Linked DNA regions of Homo sapiens: region 1 is linked to region 2. The links come from fine-mapping of genetic effects on gene expression. A gene starts in region 2. The other region holds a variant in brackets. All regions are shown on one strand. Distances are between the middles of the regions.

What was found. PIP is the estimated chance that this variant, and not a neighbour inherited with it, causes the effect.
Region 1: its variant is the best candidate, but not a certain one, in a credible set for the expression of CHKA in whole blood (INTERVAL, PIP 0.65).

The regions. Positions count from the first base shown.
Region 1 is chr11:68,140,949-68,146,312 of GRCh38, forward strand. No RefSeq gene overlaps it. Among named protein-coding and RNA genes, the nearest start is that of CHKA-DT, 22 kb to the left of the region's middle. The variant G/T (reference allele first, on the strand shown) is at 2,368.
Region 2 is chr11:68,118,548-68,123,870 of GRCh38, forward strand. It overlaps CHKA (choline kinase alpha), which reads right to left and starts at 2,841. Exons shown (of 12, transcript NM_001277.3): 1 at 2,281-2,841. The coding sequence starts at 2,630. It overlaps CHKA-DT (CHKA divergent transcript), which reads left to right and starts at 3,341. Exons shown (of 4, transcript NR_183630.1): 1 at 3,341-3,656. RefSeq lists enhancers at 349-538, 624-1,140, 1,566-1,695, 1,836-1,965, 2,814-3,579 and 1 more and silencers at 2,116-2,245, 2,816-3,245, 3,596-3,695.

The DNA of each region.
Region 1 (5,364 bases), 22 kb after region 2:
AACAGCCAGTATTTGTTGAGCTCTCACTGGGTGCCAGGCCCCTGTGCCAAACTTCCTACATGGATTATCACAAAGAATACTCACATTAGCCCTGTGGGGTGGGGGTTATTATTATCTTGATTTTGCAGACAAGGAGGCAGGCACAGAGCAATTTGGCAACCTGCCCAGGACCACACGCATGAGGAGCAGGAGGCGGCATTGCATTGGGGGCACCTGTGTGCCAGGTCAGTGCAGGGCACTTTGCAGTCCTCTTAGGGCTGAGGGCCTTGGACACTCAGCACCATTTTCCCTGCTCTGTGGCTGCAGGGGGCTGCAGGGGCTGGAAGCCTGACAGCCACGTTTCCTTGAAGCCCCTGCAGCAGGGTTCTGGGTTACAGCCTGTCAGTCACGGGCATTTGCCTGACACCTGGAAGGCTGTGGGGAGGTGCAGTGGCAGGCAGGGGTGGGCTTTGCCAGATGTGACACTTTGCCAGTGACTTCTGGGGGTCTCCTGGGGCTGACCAGCCCCCCTCCGAGTGGTGCATGCTCCTGCAATTCCTCCAGTCCTAGTTTCTTTTCTTTCTTTTTCTTAAGACAGGGTCTCTTTCTGTCACCCAGGCTGGAGTGCAGTGGTGCAATCATGGCTCATTGCAGCCTTGACCTCCCAGGCTCAAGCAGTCCTCCTGCCCCAGCCTCTTGAGTAGCTGGGACCACAGGCGTGCACCACCATGCCAGGCTACAAATCCTAACTTCTGGACCAGGTGTGGCTGCCCCTCAGCTCTTTGGAAGGTTTTGCAAGCCTCAAATTCCCCGTGTTCAGTCCTTTCCTGCTTGAAATGCCATTTTCCCAACTGAACCTTGATGAGGCAGAGGTGTTAAGGCAAAGCAGCTGGGCCTATAGGCCTGAGCTCTAGAGGCTGGGGAATGGAGGAACAAGGCTCTGGTCCCCGCGCTCAACAAGACCCCCTCAATGGGGAATTCCACATTGCAGAAGGGACACCAGGTGTGGGGCAGCTCAACAAGCAGCCAGGGCCTCCTACCCCAAGAAATGTCCTTCTAGGATAATAGCCAGCATTTGCCAAGCACTCACCGGTGCCAAGCCCCTGTGCCAAGCACTCACCGGGTGCCAGGCCCCAGGAGGCTGAGGCAGGACTGGCTTTAGAACAGGAAAGCTGGGGGTGCGAGCCCGGCTCTGCCAGTTCTGTGGGTTTGTGGTTTTTTGGTCGCTTCATGTGCCTGAGTCTCATTTTCCTGTTTCCTCATTTGGAACAGGCAGTGGTGGCGTCTCTCATGGGGACGTGGAGATAAACCAGGGCGACATCGGGGACACACAAGCCCAGTGCCTGCGGCGATGGCCGATGAGGCGCTCTTTCCATTTCCTGGTAGCAGATGAGGAAAGTGAGGCTCAAAGAGGTGATGTCATTTGCCCCAAATCACACAGTTGGGAGGTGGTGGGGTGCGAATTCAAACCCAGGAGTGTGAAGCTTCCAGCTCGTCTGTTTCTCCCTGGCTGTGGGTCAGTGCCCTGTGGGAGGCCAGGATGCCGGTCAGGGACTGGCATGGCAGGGTGAGGGGAGCAGGGTGGGCCAGCCTGCCTCCCCTCCCTCTCCTGGGGCTGCTGCCCTGTGGAGTAGGGGACTGCCATGGCCCTCACCTGTCCACCTTGTCTCCTTGCCTGGGCCTTGTCAGCCCTGTGCACTCCACAGGGCAGGGACAGGGCCTGCTGTTGACAGAAGTTCAGAACAAGGCAGTGCTTGGCCCTGGGTCCTGCGCAGATCAGTGCTGGGGCTGGCCTGGGGCCCGAGCTCAAGCCTCCGAATCCCCTTGCCCAGGCTGGACTCTTGCTGCACCGGGGCAGGTTGGCAGAGGCCTGGAGGTTTTCTCTGGGCTGCAGGTTGAGGCACCTGGGCTTGCAGACGCACGTCTGGCGGTCCAGCTTCCTCCCTGGCAGCCTCTCTCCTGCGACAGCAATATGGTGGTCTGCAGCTTCAGGCCAGCTCCATTGCTGCCCATGAGGCTACCCCAGTGGAGAGAGGTCACCTTGCCTCAGGGTCCCAGCTGAAGTCCCCAGGCTGCATCTCATTGGCCAGGCTTGGTGATATGTTCATCCCTGACCAGTCGCAGTGCCCGGGGGGTGCGCCCTCTCATAGGCCAGCCATGGAGTAGGCTGGGGTCAGAAAAGGCCTCTCCTCCCTGAGCCACATGAACTGAGAATGGGGAGGTGACCTTTCCAAAGAGGGGGTAATGGACTCTAGGAGTCAGAAGTAGTGAATGACCCGGACGGGGAAACGCAGGCCCCACTGTCGCCAGCCCTGCTGATGGTGGCCATCCTTTCTTCCTCACCTTGGCAGCAGGAGCTGGATGGAGTCTGGGGAGGTGGCAGGTACA[G/T]GCTGGAGCTCAGAGTGTGAGAGACAGTTGAGGATGGAATGTTCTCTTGGAGAAGCGAGAATAATGTCTCCTCCCCTTCTCCAAACAGCAAGTGCCCGGCCCAGCCTCTGTCTCAGGAAACTCTCTAACAGCCAAGATCAGGGCCTTATGGAGAGCTGACCCAAGGCCAGGCACTATGTTGGACACATCTGATGAGTCACTTCACTTCAGCCTTGCCAAAGCTTCATGAGCACCCATTTCACAGATGAAGAAACGGAGGCTCAGAAAGACAAACGTTTCAGCCAATAAGTGGCTGAATCTATGCTCAAACCTAGGTCTGTGTGATCCCAGACCCTGAATTCTACAAGTCCACCAAAAACTCCTCTTTATCTTCTTTTATTTTTTATGTATTTATTTATTTTTAGACAGAGTCTCACTCTGTCGCTCAGGCTGGAGTGCAGTGGCGCGATCTCGGCTCCTCTCCGCCCCATGGGTTCAAGTGATTCTCTTGCCTCAGCCTCCCTAGTAGCTGGGACTAAAGACGCACGCCACCACACCCCGCTAATTTTTGTATTTTTAGTAGAGACGGGGTTTCACCATGTTGGCCAGGAGGTCTCACTCTCCTGACCTCGTGATCCACCCACCTCGGCCTCTCAAAGTGTTGGGAATACAGGCGTGAGCCACCGCACCAGCCTATCTTCTTTTAAAAACATCATCAGTCCACCCTGGGTAATATGGCAAAATCCCATCTCTACAGAAAATACAAAAATTACCCAGGCATGGTGGCACATGCCTGTGGTCCCAGCTTCTTGGGAAGCTGAGGTGGGACGATCACCTGAGCCCTGGAGGTTGAGGCTCCAATGAGCCATGGTCATGCCACTGCACCCCAGCCTAGGCAACAGAATGAGACCCTGACTCACGATACATAAATAACTAAAAATAGCCAGGCGGGCTGGGCGCGGTGGCTCATGCCTGTAATCCCAGCACTCTGGGAGGCCGAGGCAGGCAGATCACGAGGTCAGGAGATCGAGACCACCCTGGCTAACACGGTGAAACCCCGTCTCTACTAAAAATACAAAAAAATTAGCCAGGCGTGGTGACGGGCGCCTGTAGTCCCAGCCATTTGGGAGGCTGAGGCAGGAGAATGGCGTGAACCCGGGAGGCAGAGCTTGCAGTGAGCCAAGATTGTACCACTGCACTCCAGCCTGGGCGACAGAGAAAGACTCCGTCTCAAAAAAAAAAAAAATAAAATAAAATAAAATAAAATAAAAACACATAAAACATCATCAGTGTCTTGTTAAAGTAGTGCTGTTCTAGTTGTAAACGAGTTAGTGTGAGGTTGTGGGCCATGTCTGAGGCCTCAGCTCTCAGCCCAGGAAATAAGGCTGTTGTGAGTGAGTAAGGTGGGGGTGAAGGATGTGGGAGGGGGGCTCTACTTCCAAAGTTGCTGAGGCAGTGTTGAAGGCCGCAGGACACTTCCTCACCACTGTGGCCCAACTCTTCTTTCTCCCTCAAAACCCAGCTCGAAGGACACTTCCTCCCAGAAGTCTTCTCTGCTGTGCCTATAACCCTCCCCTGACCCCAGGAAGACACACACACACACACACACACACACACAACTTCTCTGTGTACTCCATCCCCTACGTTGTACTCATCAAAGCCCCAACCATAGTGTGTGTGTGTGGTGTGTATGGTGTGTATGGTGTGTATGGTGTGTGTGTGTGTGTGTGTGTGTGTGTGTGTGTCTGTCTGTCTGTCTCCTCGGTCAGACTGGGACAACCTGAGGGCAAGGAGAGGGAATTCCCTGATGCCCAAGGTGTGCCCCGTGTAGATCATGGTACAGAGTGGAGGCTCAGCAAACAGAGCATAAATGAATGAGTGAGTGAATGAATGCATGGAATCTTGGGGTGAGTTTCCCTGAAGACAGCCCCAGGGTGCTGTGGCTGTAGGAGCTGGACCGTCTAGTGCCTTGGTCTGGGGGTGGCTGAAGCTGGAGGAGGGAAAGAGGCCAGTCCTTTGCAGCTTCTGGAGGCCAGAGTCCAAGGTCAGCTTCTCTCAACAGGACCCCTCTGAACCCGGCTGACACCACGGCCTTTGGAAGCCATGTGGTCAGTAACACGCTGTCACCCTTACTGCAGTCTGTTCACCTGACCTAATGACTGGGAACCTCAGGTCTGTGACTCAATGCCCAGAATGCTGTCTGGTATGGGGGTATGGGTCACACCTGGCTCATCTCCAGGACAGCCCTGTTCTGCGTGTCTGCCAGCCAAGGGGTCACGTGCTAACCTGGCTGCCCCACTGGGGGTGGGAGGGGCAGCTTCAGGATGGGGCCGCATCAGGCCCCATCTCCCTACCAGGCCCGTCAGTGGGCACCCTGAGCCTCTCTCTCTCATTCCTTCTTTTGAGCCTGCAGCACTACTCCCCGACCAAAGCACACTTTCCCTTCTCGTCTGGAGGAGAGATGGGGCCTCGTGCCAGCTCTGCCCCTGCCTGACACACACGCTTGGCCCGTCACTGAGCCTCAGTTTCCCTCTCTGTATTTCTTGGCTGTGCAAAGGCAGTCGGGGGAGGCTGGCCCTTTAAGCTGGATGAGGCTGGTATTTTGTGTTTTTTTTTGAGACGAAGTCTCACTCTGTCACCCAGGCTGGAGTGCAATGGCGCGATCTTGGCTCACTGCAACCTCCGCCTCCTGGGTTCAAGTGATTCTCCTGCCTCAGCCTCCCAAGTAGCTGGGATTACAGGTGCCCACCACCACACTCAGCAAATTTTTTGTATTTTTAGTAGAGACGGGGTTTTGCCATGTTGGGCAGGCTGGTCTTGAACTCCTGACCTCAGGTGATCCGCCCGCCTTGGGAGGCTGGGTTTTTGAGCTTTGTGCTGTTGGGGCCCAGCCCTCAGGGCCGCGTGGGAACCCCCGGGGCGGGGTGTTCTATACCAGGAAGTAGGCAGAGGGCCAGCCCGAGGACAGTTCGTTTCTTGCCAGTCCCCTGACCTCTCTTGGCACACAGCCTGTGGCAG
Region 2 (5,323 bases):
GACGAATTCCTCTCCTTCTCCGCACCTCCAAATGCCCTTGTGTCTTTTTTAAAAGCTAGACATCACCCACTTTCCCATGTCCTAAATCACCTTTTTTTCTCCTTATTAAACTTATTCCATAACTACGTTCTCTTTCAGAACACAGGACTGAGAGAGTGTACTCTTGCAACATTATGTAAAAAGGTCATCCAATCCAAAAGGAAAGCTGTGTTTTCCAAGACTGCTAACTCCTGGAGAAAAGAAACAAGACATCCTCAATGCTTTCCTAATAACTGGTTTGAGCAAAATGCAAAAGTTTAACTGCTGAGTGACTCTCCCTGGAGAAAGCCATGAAAATATCTTAAGGCTGGATCTAGGGTGTCCAAACATTTTCACAGGCCGCAGGCTAGAGCACTGGTGCAGGAGAAGGGGACACCAGAGACCTGGCAGTTCAGGCTTTGAAGGCAGTAAACAGCCACTGACCTCAGGCAAGTCACTTCTCCTTTAGGTTTTCCATTTCACAGACTGATGAGTACATGGCCTAAAATGATCGCCCTTCTAGTTGAGAATTTTCAGGCCTAACTAAAAGTAGATTAAAGTAAACCTTGGAGAGAGCTGAATTTTTTTTAAGTGCCATTAAGCAATTCAGGGATTATCTAAACAGCCTCGGTTTTCTTTTCTCTGCTTCCTTACCAACTGCCTATTAACTCTCACTCTTAGCTCATAAGCAGTCAGAGGGGCTGAAGCACAAAGAGGAAGTGAAGCTCAAAGAGTTAATTTTGCTGCATTAGCGGCTCTGGTGAAAGACAGTGGGCACAGAAAAGGAATCAAATGACCAAAACTGGACTTGGGGATTACTGGTGGCAGCCAGCCAGCAAATTTCTAGATACTGCACACAACCTGTCAGCCAATTAAAAGAAAATTGGCAGAAAATGACGGAACACGTTCTTTGTTTTTGTTTTTTTGAGACAGTCTCTCTCTGTCAAAGGCTGGAGTGCAGTGGCGTGATCTCGGCTCACTGCAACCGCCGCCTCCCAGGTTCAAGCGATTCTCCTGCCTCAGCCTCCCAAGTAGCTGGGACTACAGGTGTGCGCCACCATGCCCAGCTAATTTTTGTATTTTTAGTAGATATGGGGTTTCACCATGTTGGCCAGGCTGGTCTCGATCTCCCGACCTCGTGACCCGCCCACCTTGGCCTCCCAAAGTGCTGGGATTACAGGCGTGAGCCACTGCGCCCGGCCCGGGAACACATCTTTAAAGGTCTCAATAGAAGGATGCACACACTACGTTGAATGGTTATGTCTTCGGAGCAGAGTGGTGAAAGAAGGTCAGACTTCTGTTAAGTCTGAATACCTACACGCGTACTTCTGTAATTCAAATTTAAGATTAAATATTTTCAAGTTTAAAAAAAGGAAAAAATGGCCGAGCGCGGTGGCTCATGCCTGTAATCCCAACATTTTGGGAGGTCGAAGCGGGTGGATCACCTGAGGTCGGGAGTTCAAGATCAGCCTAACGAACATGGAGAAACCTTGTCTCTACTAAAAATACAAAATTAGCCGGGCGTGGTGGCGTGTGTCTGTAATCCCAGCTACTCGGGAGGCTGAGGCAAGGAGAATCGCTTGAACACGGGAGGCCGTGGTTGCAGTGAGCCGAGGTCGCGCCACTGCACTCCAGCCTGGGGACCAAGAGCGAAACTCCGTCTCAAAAAAAAAAAAAAAAGGAAAAAACATTTCTACCTTACTCTTATTTTAGGAGCCACGCCTCCCACCTTTGTCTAGTAACACAGCTATAGTGATGTCTCTTAGGGGATGAGAAAATGCTACTCCTCCACTAACAATGACTCTTGGAGAGGGAACAAGACATCAAATCGCGAACTCGAAAAACTAACAGAAAAAAGTTAAAAAGTGGTTTGTGTTTTTAAAGCCAGCCACAACACCTTCATTCAAGGCCCTAAACCGCAGAGACTTTCTAGACCTATCTTAAGCGTCAGTACCACACGCACTTCGTGATGGAACGGTATTGTTCTCCTAGAACAGACCCGTTTTCTCATGAAACCGACGTTTTTACAAAAGCCTGTTTGTGGACGGCCTGCGGCGGCCGCGAACCCGCTTCCCTTGGATTACCCAGGGCTGGGAGAAGGAGGGCTTTCGCCGGCTGCGGTCCCCGGTCCCCGGCCTCCGCCCCGGCCCCGGCTCCCCCGGCCCCCGACCCCCCCGGCCCACGCCCCCTGCCCGGACCCCGCCCCGGCCCCGCCCCGCGTCACCTGACTGTCCCGCGGCCCCCAGACCCGGCGCCACCGACCTGATGACACTGATGTGGAACTCGTCCTCGCGGAGGCCCCGCCAGGCGCCGGGCAGGAACTCCTTGCACCACAGATAGGCCCTGCGCCGCGTCCGGGGCTCCGGCTGCTCGTCTGCGGGCGGCTGCGGCGGCGGGGGCTGGGGCAGCGGCAGCGGCAGCGGCAGCGGCGGCGGAGGGGGCAGCGCGAGCGGCGGCTGTTGGCCGCCCAGCTGCTTGGACTCGAGGTCGCTGGCGGCGTCGCGCTGCTGCCCCACGCCGGGCGCCGGGGCCGCGCTGCCGCTACCGCAGCTCAGCAGCAGCCCGAGCGGCGAGGGCTCCGCCTCGCCCCCGGTGCAGAATTTGGTTTTCATGCCCGACAGGCGGCCGAGGAGGCGCGGGCGGCCGCAGCGCGAGAGGACTAGGCTCAGAGTCCGGCCGGGCGCCCCCTCGCCGCTCTCTCACTGGCAGGCCGGCGGGGCAGGGGGCCGCGGCGGTTGGGCGCGCGGGGCGGCGGCGGCGGCTGCGGCGACTGCGGCGACTGTGGAGCGGGGATGTGCTGCTGGCCGCTGCACTCGCTCCTCTGCCGCCGCCGCACGAGGAGCGCCGGCCGCGTCACAGCCCGCCCTCGCGCTCGCCACTGATTGGCCGCCGTCCGCCGGCCCGGCGCATCATAACCGCCGCCGCCCTCGCCACACCGCCTCCCCATTGGCTGCGGCGCCGCCCCCAACCCAGAGCGCTGCGGCCTCCGTGAGCGGGGCCTGGGCGAAGGGGGCGGGGCGTCGAGGGGGCGCCCCGGCGGTCGCAGGGAAGGGGGAGAGGGGAGCGAGGCGCGGGGGGCGCCGGGAGAGCGCCTCCGCGGTGGGACGGAGCCGGACTGGGCCGAGCGAGGGAGGCTCCTGAGCCTCGGAGGACCCCGGGGTTGGCTTTGGGAGCTGAAAGTTTCCTTGGACCCCTCGGAAGCCCCGTGACATCAGAGGCCGGGCCTGGCAGGGGCAGGCAGGAAACGTGTCTGGAGGCTACTGCCCTCTCCGCGTGACCTTGGGCGAGCAGCCTCCTCCTGGGGCTCAGTGGGTGTGATTTTGTAACATTTCCCAGCGCTGCCACAGGCGCGTCTCGCCCTGTCCAACGCGGAGCCCGAAGAATTACTAAGAAACCGAGGTCTGAAGGAGGGAAGAGGTGACGGGCTCGAGGCCACACGGTGGGCCAGGCTGGGCCCGGCTGCACGCCGGCTACCGGGGCCCAGCCCTCTGCACGCCTCCCGCAGCCTCAGTTTCCCTGTCCGTGGTACTGAGGATGCTCGGGCCTAGAAGTTCAGGGCTGGAGGCCCAGGGACCGTCGAGGGAGGGGCATCATCCCCGCCATGGGGCCGCCGCAACTGCCCAGAGCACAGGCCAAAGGTGCGTGCCACGGGGCTACTGGCGTTGTGGACGCTGCCCCTGCCTCCCCATCCCCCGCAGGAAACAGCCTTGTGACCGTGACTAACGCACCTTTGCCGGGGTAGAGGGGCAAGGGCCCCTGCTACCGTTTGCCACACACTGCCCCATGTCCCTCACTGCTCCCGTCCTTCCTAGAAGTGAGGTGCTGATACATATAAAAATTATGGATCCCATTTTATGGGACATGAGCTGAAACAGGAGGTTTCCTGGGCTGCCAGGGGCTTAGGAAATCCAGTGCCTGATACACAGGAAATGCTTCTATGTGGGGAGTTCACAGTCTTCCAGAAGCAAAAATGTTTTTTGGTTTTTTTTTTGAGACGGAGTCTTGCTCAGTCGCCCAGGCTGGAGTGCAGTGGCACGATCTCGGCTCACTGCAACCTCCGCCTCCCGGGTTCACGCCATTCTGCTGCCTCAGCCTCCCGAGTAGCTAGGACTACAGACGCCCGCCACGACGCCTGGCTAATTTTTTTTTTTTTTTTTTTTTTTTTTTTGTATTTTTAGTAGAGACGGGGTTTCATCGTGTTAGCCAGGATGGTCTCGATCTCCTGACCTCGTGATCCGCCCGCCTCGGCCTCCCAAAGTGCTGGGATTACAGGAGTGAGCCACCGCGCCCGGCCGCAAAAATCTTTTAGAGTGTGTACTTGGCTGAACTTGCTCCACGCAAAATGGTCTTATTTAAGGATAAAAATGAAAGGGGACTTTTGTAAGGCTGCTGTGGCGACAGGCCTGGAAGTTGACCTGCAGGGAGGTAGGAGAGACCAAGGCCCCTGGGACGGAGGCCGGCCACTGGATGTTTGAAAGGCTGAGAAGCCAAGGGCTTCAATCTGGGGAGGCCGTTTGGATAAAGGAGCCAAGGACTTTCTCTAAAAATACCGGCTCACAGGGAGGTGGGGCCATGCCAATGGCCTGCCCAGGTGACAAGCCCTTTGTCCCACTGTCCCCTGGCACCAGTCTGGTAATCTCAAAGGAATGCCAGAAATCTGGCCAGGAGGAAGGGACACTAAAGTAAGGAGTGGCCCTCTATAATTTGAAATAACTCTTTCTGGCATCTGCTGGCTTTTGTTAGGAAAAGCCTCAGACATTTTTATGGGATCACAGTTCCCTGTGGGAGGAAGAGGTTGCCTCAAGGCCAGGCATGGTGGCTTATGGCTGTAATCCCAGCACTTTGGGAGGCCAAGGCAGGAGGATCACTTGAGCCAGGAGTTTGAGACCAGCCTGGCCAACATAACAAGACTCTGTCTCGCCGGGCGAGGTGGCTCATGCCTGTAACCCCAGCACTTTGGGAGGCCGAGGTGGGCGGATCACAAGGTCAGGAGTTCGAGACCATTCCGGCTAACACGGTGAAACCCCATCTCTACTAAAAATACAAAAAAAATTAGCCGGGCGTAGGTGGTGCATGCCTGTAGTCCCAGCTACTCGGGAGGCTGAGGCAGGAGAATGGCATAAAACCCAGGAAGCGGAGGTTGCAGTGAGCCGAGATCGCGCCACTGCACTACAGACTGGGAGACAGAGCGAGACTCCGTCTCAAAAAAAAAAAAAGACTGTCTCAAAAATTAAAAATGAAAAAAAAAATTAACAGAGCATTGTGTCTTACACTTGTCCGACTACTTGGGAGGCTCAGCCAGGAG